2 separate regions of the Homo sapiens genome follow, and region 2 is linked to region 1. The links come from fine-mapping of genetic effects on gene expression. A gene starts in region 1. The other region holds a variant in brackets. All regions are shown on one strand. Distances are from middle to middle.

Region 1 (4,318 bases):
TCTCAGGCATCCCAAAGATGAAAGCTCTAGAGGAGAGACACCAGTCCTCACAGGACTCATGTCCATGCTCAGTCCAAGGAGACCTAGCCACTTCCTTACCCTTCCTGCTCAGTTTCAGAAGAAAAGGATTGGGGATTGGTTGGGCTGCTCTCCCACCTTTTAAGAGCCAACTGCTTTGGTCACCACTCAAGACAAGAGCAAGTCTATTTTCAGAAAGCACAGGGGGTGCTCTGTTTCTCTATCCTCCCTAACAAATAGGCTGGGCTAGACCCTGGAGGGCAACCATGGAGGAGTGTGGGAAGGATTCACCCTTGCTTCAGAAGCTCCTTGCAATCAGGGACCAGGGTAGTGTGACAAATGCCACTTCAAGGTTAAACTGGACATGACCAGGGGAAGGTGTCAGGCTGTGTGTTGTTACAGATTGTATATTTGCATGCCTGGGGGTTACCAGGCTGTACGCATATAAACAGGGAGGAGGCAGGCTCTGAGAACCTGCCAGGGTGCCTGGGATAAGCTGTGACTTTTTGCCCCTGATGCCATAAGTTGGAGGGTCCTCTGCTCAAAACATATGGTACACACTTCTCCTTCTTTTCATCTGGTATCATGTATCATCTCTCAGATCCAATAAGAAAACATTCCCACGTCCTTCCCTCCCTCCCTAGTACCAAGGTCCTCATCTCAGTTTTCATGGGTCCATGGAGGGCTGCCTCTAGTGATGAGCTGGAATCTTAAGGCCTGAAATAGAGCCAGACTGCAGCAGTCCCAAGTCCTGGAGAGCTTCAAGTAACTGCTCCCGCGCAGAGCCAATAAAGGAATTCTCCAGGAAGGTAGGCAGGCCTCCTACACCATCCCGCAGGGTATACAGGGGCACTCGCACCAGGCCCAGCACCTGTAAAAGGAAGGAGACAGGAGACACTAGGGCCCCAGGTGGCTCATTCCCTTAACTCCATCCTTTCTCCAGCAGATCAGGCCTCACCCCTTAATACTCCAGCAGAACCAGGCCCAAGGCTCACACCTCACTAAAGCCTAGTGGCCCAACCTTCTGCAGGAAAATGACCCAAAACATATTATCTAGCTCTATCAATTAATCTTTCCCACATCTGCTTCTAAACCTCTAGTGGCTACTGCCTCAAAGATGTATTCATACCCTTTCACCAGTGGTTGTCAAAATGTGGTCCTCAGATTATTTGCATCAGCATTATTTGGGAACTTTTGAAAACTACAAATTCTCAGGTTTCCTCTCCCCCCGCCCCACCACCAATGCAGGAATGCTGAGAGAAATCGCTATTTTAATAAGACGCCCCGATGATTCTGCTACCTGCCAAATTTTGAGAACCACCTTCATACATAATCTATCTACTAGCCCTGCCTGAAATATCAGGGCCACATCTCCTACACAAGAAAAGCAAACCCCAAGAATAAAACCTAGGTTGCCACACCTAGATAATGTGATAATCTATCACACTGTCAATAGGGAACAGCAGAGAGACATGGATGAGTGTGTTCTAGAAAGGATCTCTCCTGGTAAAGGGTGGGAAAGACCTTTACAGAAAGCCCAGGTTGGCAGTACTAATTCAGAGTATAGATGATCACGATCCCAACTCCACCAAGAAAGCTGGGGAGAGGGCAAGGTCAGAGGGGCAAAGACTTTTCTCCAGGGATGCTTTCTTGGGGGAGAGAAAGCTTTGGGAGAAGAGGAAATTGGGAAAGGGACAGAGTCCCAGGCTGGTCCCACCTCCAGCCCGTGGTCCTTGGCGCGTGTTGCGCCGGCCTCCACAGCCAACAGCTCCTCGAGCGTCAGACGCTTGGCATAGAAGTGGGCCACAACGCGTGGCCCTGACCCGACGTGGGAGCTGCGGTAGTCAGTGCGCTCCACGCGGAAAGCGGCAGCCGCTTCGCCCAGCTCCTCGCGCAGCTCGCGGTTCAGCCCGTCCTCTAGGCTTCTGTCCTGCGTGTCCACGAATCCGCCGGGGAAGCCCAGGCGTCCATCGAAGCGCATCTGCATCTGCGGGAGGGGGAAGCGGGGATTGGCAGGGGCGCCCCAGAGGAGACCACCAGAGAGGGTGCGGGGCTCAGGCAGAAAGTGGCCGGGCGCGCCCCCTTCTCACCAGTATGGCGTAGCGCAGCGGGATGCGGCCGAAGAGCATCCCAGGGTCCGGCGCGTAGAGGAGAGCGTGGCACGCATGACGCCAGCCCGACCCCAGCGCCAGGGCCTCGCCTAGCTCCAGCCTGCGGGCTCCGGCCATGGCCGGACACTGCTCCTCTGCTGTCCCGAAGGCCCAATGGGCAGAGGGGCGGGTCTCACCTCGGACCAATCCGAGCCTGGGCGGTGCTGCAAGGCCCAATCCCTGCAGGGATAAGGGGAGGAACCTAGGCGCCTGGGGGCGGGGCGCCGCGACCGGTGCGGGAGGCAGCTAATCAGGGCGGGGCTTGCAGACCGGGTTGAAGTCCAGGGCCCAGGAACCCTAGGGTAACCGAAAGCAGCCTCTGGGTTGGGCCTGCGGTGGGGCGGGGCTAGAGGTGTGGCCGCGCCCTAAACCTGGCGCAAGGCCGGTACCTAAAGGCTCCTGGGAGCCAAAAGAGCAAGTCAGGGAACTAGCTTTGGTTGGGTTCGGTGGTACACAAAGCACAAGGCCTGGGTTGGGGTTAGGAGGAAATGAGACTTGCGGCGGGTCGGGGCTGAAGATGTGGCAGCGCCCTGAACCTGGAGAAAGGCTGGTACGTAAACGCCTGCGTCGCAATCTGGAGTCAGCTGGAGTGTCCCGGCAGGTGAGGAAGAGCTGGGGCGCTCAGTTGAGTGCTGGGAGCCAAAGAAGTAATAACTACCTTTGGTTGGGTGTGGTGGTACACAAAGCACAAGGCCTGGGTGGGGGTTAGGAGGAAATGAGGCAGGGTTGGCCTCAGACACCAAGGCCTATCCTAGGGAAATGGAGATGGACAGGCGCCATGGTCTGACAACTATCTTGAGTGGTGAAATTGAGGGGACTTGGTGACTGAGTGAATGGGGAAGAGGGAGCGCTGGGCTAGTGGTGGTTCCGAGTTTCCTGGATGTGGTGTCATTTTCTGAGAGGGGGAGAGTAGGAGAAGGGTGAGCAGTGATAAGTGTAGTTCTAAGGAATTGGGGTGGCCATAGGCAGTGGGCAGCTGATCGTGGGGGTCTGACGCACAGGGAGTGGCACATAGAGAAGTCACAGGGCAGTGAGATTTTCAGGGGAAGGGTGGGGGTGGAAGGAGCTGTGAGTGAAATCCTGTGGCACAGGACTGGGAGTGAGGAGGGGTGAGAGATAGAAGAAGCCTCCTAGGCTTTCTAGTCTTTCCCTCAAACCCCCTCAGACCTCTGAGCTATGAAGGAGGGTGGGTTACCCTACCACAAGGGCAGAGGCCTACTCAGGGCCTGATGCTGAGATGCAGGATCCCTCACTCCAGGCCAGGCCTTCCCCACCCTGCAGAGCGCCCCTACACCAGGTGTCGATATTGATTATGCAATAGAAAGCAGGAGGCAGCTCCTTGAGGGGGGCTGGGCATAAACTCACAGCCTGTAAGTGACGGCATATGGTGGGAAAGAGTCCGGACCCACCCAGAAACAGGTTTGTGACCTTAACAAGTCACTTAACTCTCTCAGATCCCAGCAGCTCATCTGTTAAGTGGAGATGATACCAACCTATTAGGGATGTTGAGATATGTTAGGCACTTAGAACAGTGCCAGGCAGAAAGTAAATGTAGCCATTCTTGGAGTTGAGGGTTGGGGCACAGTGCTATGTCTTACGTTGAGGAGCCAGGGCTGGGCACATACCTATAATCCCAGCACTGTGAGAGGCGAGGTGAGAGGATCATTCAAGGTCATGAATTTGAGACCAGTCTGGGCAACATAGCGAGACCCCGTCTCTACAAAAAATAATAATAATAAATAAAGACCCAAGTGTTGGAACTGAGCTGCACTCATCACGCTCCAGTGTTTGAAGGAGGGATGAGCTGTATGACATCATCTTTCCTAGCTTAGTCTTCTGCGTTGTGGGGCAGGGATATTATCTAATAACATGAAGCAACTGCATTAAAGTGATGAGTCTGTAGGTGTGATACAATTGTCACTGGCCTGCTAGAGTTCCAGGGGGTTTGGAAATAGCCCTGCTTTAACATTAGAGTCACCTCGCAAAAAGCTTCTAAAAATTTTTAAAAGCTGCCACTTTTTCCTACCACAGACCAGTTGAATCAGAATGTATGGGGTCCTACAGGGACATATGCGGTTTTTAAAATATGTTTTAGGTAACTAATAACCAGGGTGGAGAACCGGGGCCTTCCCCCTTCCACTAGCATTCCA
Region 2 (4,391 bases), 130 kb after region 1:
TTGGATGCCTGCAAATGTCTTTCTTCCTTTCTCACACTTGATTGATAGTTTGGATAGATAAATATTTGTAGGTTCAAACTTTATTATCTTCTAGCTTTTAGTTATTGTTGAAAAATAAGACACCACTCTTTTCTCTGATACTTTATAAGTGGTCTGTTTGATTCTCTCTAGATATTTTTCTTATTTATTTGATAATTTTTTTCATTTTCTGTTCTTTTTTCCTGGAATTTCTATTTGTTAGGTGCTGAATCACGTAGATGAATCACTTTGTTTTCTTACCATTTATTAATTATATTCTGGTAAATTTCCTCACTTTTATCTTCCAAACCTTCTACTGAATTTTTATTTCTGCCATTAAAATTATAACTTTAAGAGCTCTTTCTTATTCTCTGTATGATTTGCTTCACAGAGGTAATACTTTCTCTGCTATCTTTTAGAATTTTAATATTGTTTCTTTAATTTTTTATTTTAAAAAACTTTTGTGGATACACAGTTTTTGAATTTTTATTTTCTTGTCTACATTGTCTGTTTCCTGAGTTCTTTGTATATTTTTGTCTTGATTTCTCTTTTTGGTTAGATTTCCTCAGATACTGGCTACTGCATTGCTACATGTTCACATTTAAGTGTGAAAAATTAAAAGTCAGTTTAAGCTCTTTCTGCAGATTCAGAGATTGTCAACTGGTAGCGCTCATTCCCACCATTTTGTTGAGGAAATGTTAACATCCTTAGGATTCTCAGGCTGGTAAATGCTGTCAGAGAGATATCTTCTAAAGAGTCCATGCTTTTCTGAACCTGAAGGAGTCCATGCTGTTCTTCCAGTGTTTCAGAAGCCAAGTAGGAATGGTATCTGGGGGTTTCATAACTTAATATGAAGACTTTCAACTCATCTCTTTGTTTTCATCACATCACATCACCCTGTCCTTTGGTGTCCCTAAAACCTTCCTGATTCAATGTTCCCCCAAATCGAGTCTGTTTTCTTCTGTCTTGACTGTGGAGAGGAATATTGTGGCTGTGCCAGTGGAGAGAAAGGCACCTGGGGTCTATTTCTCCTTACGCACACTGTCAACCAATCTTCCCATTTTAATCTTCACCTATACCATGCCTTCAGCGGTAGTTGAGGCCTCCAAATCTTGAGCATTTATGAGATTCTGTAGGTTCAGTTGCCTTGCTTCTCCTAGCCTACACCTTACCTTCCCTTCTTTCCTATATACATCTTAGGCACTTAGCTTTCAGCTTTCTCTGTTTTCTAAATCAGTTATCACTCATCTATCTGCTTTATATCTTTCTCAAGTTCACTAAAGCTCTCATCTGCTTCCATCTCCTCTTATGTTCTCTTTTTTTTCTGTAGGTTTATATTAGCTTTTTTCCTTTTTTGTCATGTTAGTGGGACTTCAAGCAGAGATAAATGTGTATTTTTACTCCATGATTCTAATGCTCATTTCTTTAAGGAAAAAAAAAACACCCAGCCTAGAAAGGAATTTGGATATTAACTATTCAATCAGTGCTATTTCAATTTTTAGCAGTGGAATCTATCTTTTTCCAGACACAATCTTTTATAGAAATTCAATTTATAAAACAGATAAGAGTGAAGATAATTTTGGTTGAAACTGGTAAAAGAACAGGGTCTGCATCTAATTTCTCCTAAAAATATTTTTAAATATTTCACATGGAAAAAGCAAAATAGTGCACAGAGATTCACACTATAATCTTTTATTCAAGAAAGAACAGAGGAATTCACTGGAAAAGGAAAGATCCCAGTGAAGAGAGGATGGGTAGACAGCCTGCATGCCAACAACTGACTGAGAACTGTGAGTAAAGCCCTAATATGGGAGAGTGAGAGAGACTGTTTCTCTGTGATCCAGCTTTCCACGGGGGGACCATGCAATCCAGGCCATGGAAGAGCACCTTGTCCCTCACCAGCCCTGGTGCTAACTTGGAGAAAGGCTGGCAGGCTGTAAGAAAGAAAGGCTCCAGGAAGTGCCCCAAGCATTTTTCCAGACCCAAACCTCAGCTTCCATGATATGATTATTATGTATTGTATGCCTATTTAAAAAATCTCATGTACTCCATAAACACAAACACCTACTATGTACCCACATAAATTTTTTAAGAACCATATGATCATCTATATAGATGCAGAAAAAGCATTTGAAAAAAGTCAGCATTCTATCATGATAAAACCTTCTATAAATGAGGCATAAAAGAAACCTACCTCAAAATAATAAAGGCCATATATGACACATCTACAGCCAACATCATACTGAATGGGGAAAAGTTGAAAGCAATTCTCCTAAACCTGGTACAAGTCAAGAATGCCCACTTTCATTACTCCTGTTCCACACAGTACTAGGAGTCCTACCCAGAGCAACCAAGCAAGAGAAAAATAAATAGCACCCAAATTGGAAAAAAGAAAGTCAAATTATCTCAGTTTGCTGATCATATGATCTTATACCTAGAAAACACTAGACTTCTCCAAAAACTGTTAGATTAGATGAACAAATTAAGTAAAATTTCAGGATACAAAATAAACATACCAAAATCTATGGCATTTCTGTACACCAATAACAATCACATTAAGAACCAAATCAAGAAGGCAATTCCATTTACAATAGCTACAAAAAAAAAAAAA[C/AC]CCTAGGAATACATTTAACCAAATAAGTGAAAAATTTCTACAAGGAAAACTACAAAACACTAATGAAAGAAATCATAGATGATGCAAACAAATGGAAACACATCCCACGCTCATGGATGGAGAGAATCAACATTGTGAAAATGACTTCAATGCAATTCCCATCAAATACCACCATCATTCTTCACAGAACTATAAAAAGAAACTCTAAAATTCATATGAAACCAAAAAAGAGCCTGCATACCCAAAGCAAGACTAAGAAAAAAGAATAAATCTGGAGGCATCACATTACCTGACTTCAAACTATACTATATTATAAGGCCATAGTCATCAAAACAACATGGTACTGGTATAAAAACAGGCACAAAAACCAATGGGTCAGAATAGAGAATCCAGAAATAAAGCCATATACTTATAGCTAACTGATATTCAACAAAGCAAACAAAAACATAAAGTAGGAAATGGACACCCTATTCAACAAATCGTGCTGGGATAATTGGCAAGTCACATGTAGAAGAATGAAACTGGATCCTCATCTCTCACCTTATACAAAAATCAACTGAAGATGGATCAAAGACTTAAATGTAAGACCGAAACCATAAAGATTCTAGAAGATAACATCAGAAAAAACCCGTGTAGACACTGGCTTAGCCAAATACTTCATTACCAAGAACCTGAAAGCAAATGCATCAAAAACAAAGATAAATAGATGGGACTTAATTAAACTAAAAAGCTTCTGCACAGCAAAAGAAATAAACAGCAGAATTAACAGACAACCCACAGAGTGGAAGAAAACCTTTACAATCTATACATCCAACAAAGCACTAATATTCAGAATCTACAAAGAACTCAAACAAGTCAGCAAGAAGAAAACAAAAAAAAATCCCATCAAAAAGTGGGCTAAGGACATAAGTAGACAATTCTCAAAAGAAGATATACAAATGGCCAACAAGCATATGAAAAAATGCTCAACATCACTAAGTATCAGGGAAATGCAAATAAAAACCATAATGTGATACCACCTCACTCCTGCAAAAATGGCCATAATTTTAAAAATCAGAAAATAATAGATATTGACATGGATGCAGTGAAAAGGGAACACTTTTACTCTGTTGATGGGAATGTAAATTAGTACAACCACTATGGAAAACAGTATGAAAATTATTTAAAGGACTAAAAGTAGATCTTCCATTTGAGCCAGCAATCCCATTACTAGGTATCTACCTAGAGGAAAAGAAGTAATTATATGAAAAAGATGCACATGCATGTTTATAGCAGCACAATTTGCAATTGCAAAAATATGGAACCAGCCCAAATGTCCATCGATCAATGAGTGGATAAAGAAAATGTGATACACATACACATGTGGTACACACACCACGGAATACTATTCAGCCATAAAAAGGAATGAAATAATGGCATTTGCAGCAACCTGGATGGAAATGGAGACTGTTATTGTAAGTGAAGTAGTTCAGGAATGGAAAACCAAACATCCTATATTCTCACTCATGTGAGAGCTAAGCTATGAGGACACAAAGGCATAAGAATGATACATTTGGACTTTAGGGACTTGTGGGGAAAGGGTGAGGGAGGTGAGGGATAAAAGGCTACACGCTGGGTACAGTGTTCACTGCTAGGGTGATGGGTGCACCAAAATCTCATAAATTGCCATTAAAGAACTTATTCATGTGGCCAAACACCAACTGTTCCCCAAAAACCTATTGGAATAAAAAAAATTTTTTTGTTTAAAGAAAACCTAGGGAAA

Evidence for each region. PIP is the estimated chance that this variant, and not a neighbour inherited with it, causes the effect. A credible set is the group of variants that fine-mapping cannot tell apart.
Region 2: its variant is the best candidate, but not a certain one, in a credible set for the expression of NUDT16 in whole blood (INTERVAL, PIP 0.60).

Annotation. Positions count from the first base shown.
Region 1 is chr3:131,379,733-131,384,050 of GRCh38, reverse strand. NUDT16 (nudix hydrolase 16) reads right to left here and starts at 2,277. Exons shown (of 3, transcript NM_152395.3): 1 at 2,109-2,277; 2 at 1,736-2,005; 3 at 1-889. The coding sequence starts at 2,246. The coding sequence ends at 710. NUDT16-DT (NUDT16 divergent transcript) reads left to right here and starts at 2,576. Exons shown (of 4, transcript NR_038976.1): 1 at 2,576-2,718. RefSeq lists enhancers at 1,269-1,837, 1,838-2,407, 2,699-2,968 and a silencer at 2,289-2,588.
Region 2 is chr3:131,246,078-131,250,468 of GRCh38, reverse strand. All of the region lies in intron 16 of NEK11 (NIMA related kinase 11), which reads right to left. Among named protein-coding and RNA genes, the nearest start is that of NUDT16-DT, 130 kb to the left of the region's middle. The variant C/AC (reference allele first, on the strand shown) is at 2,630.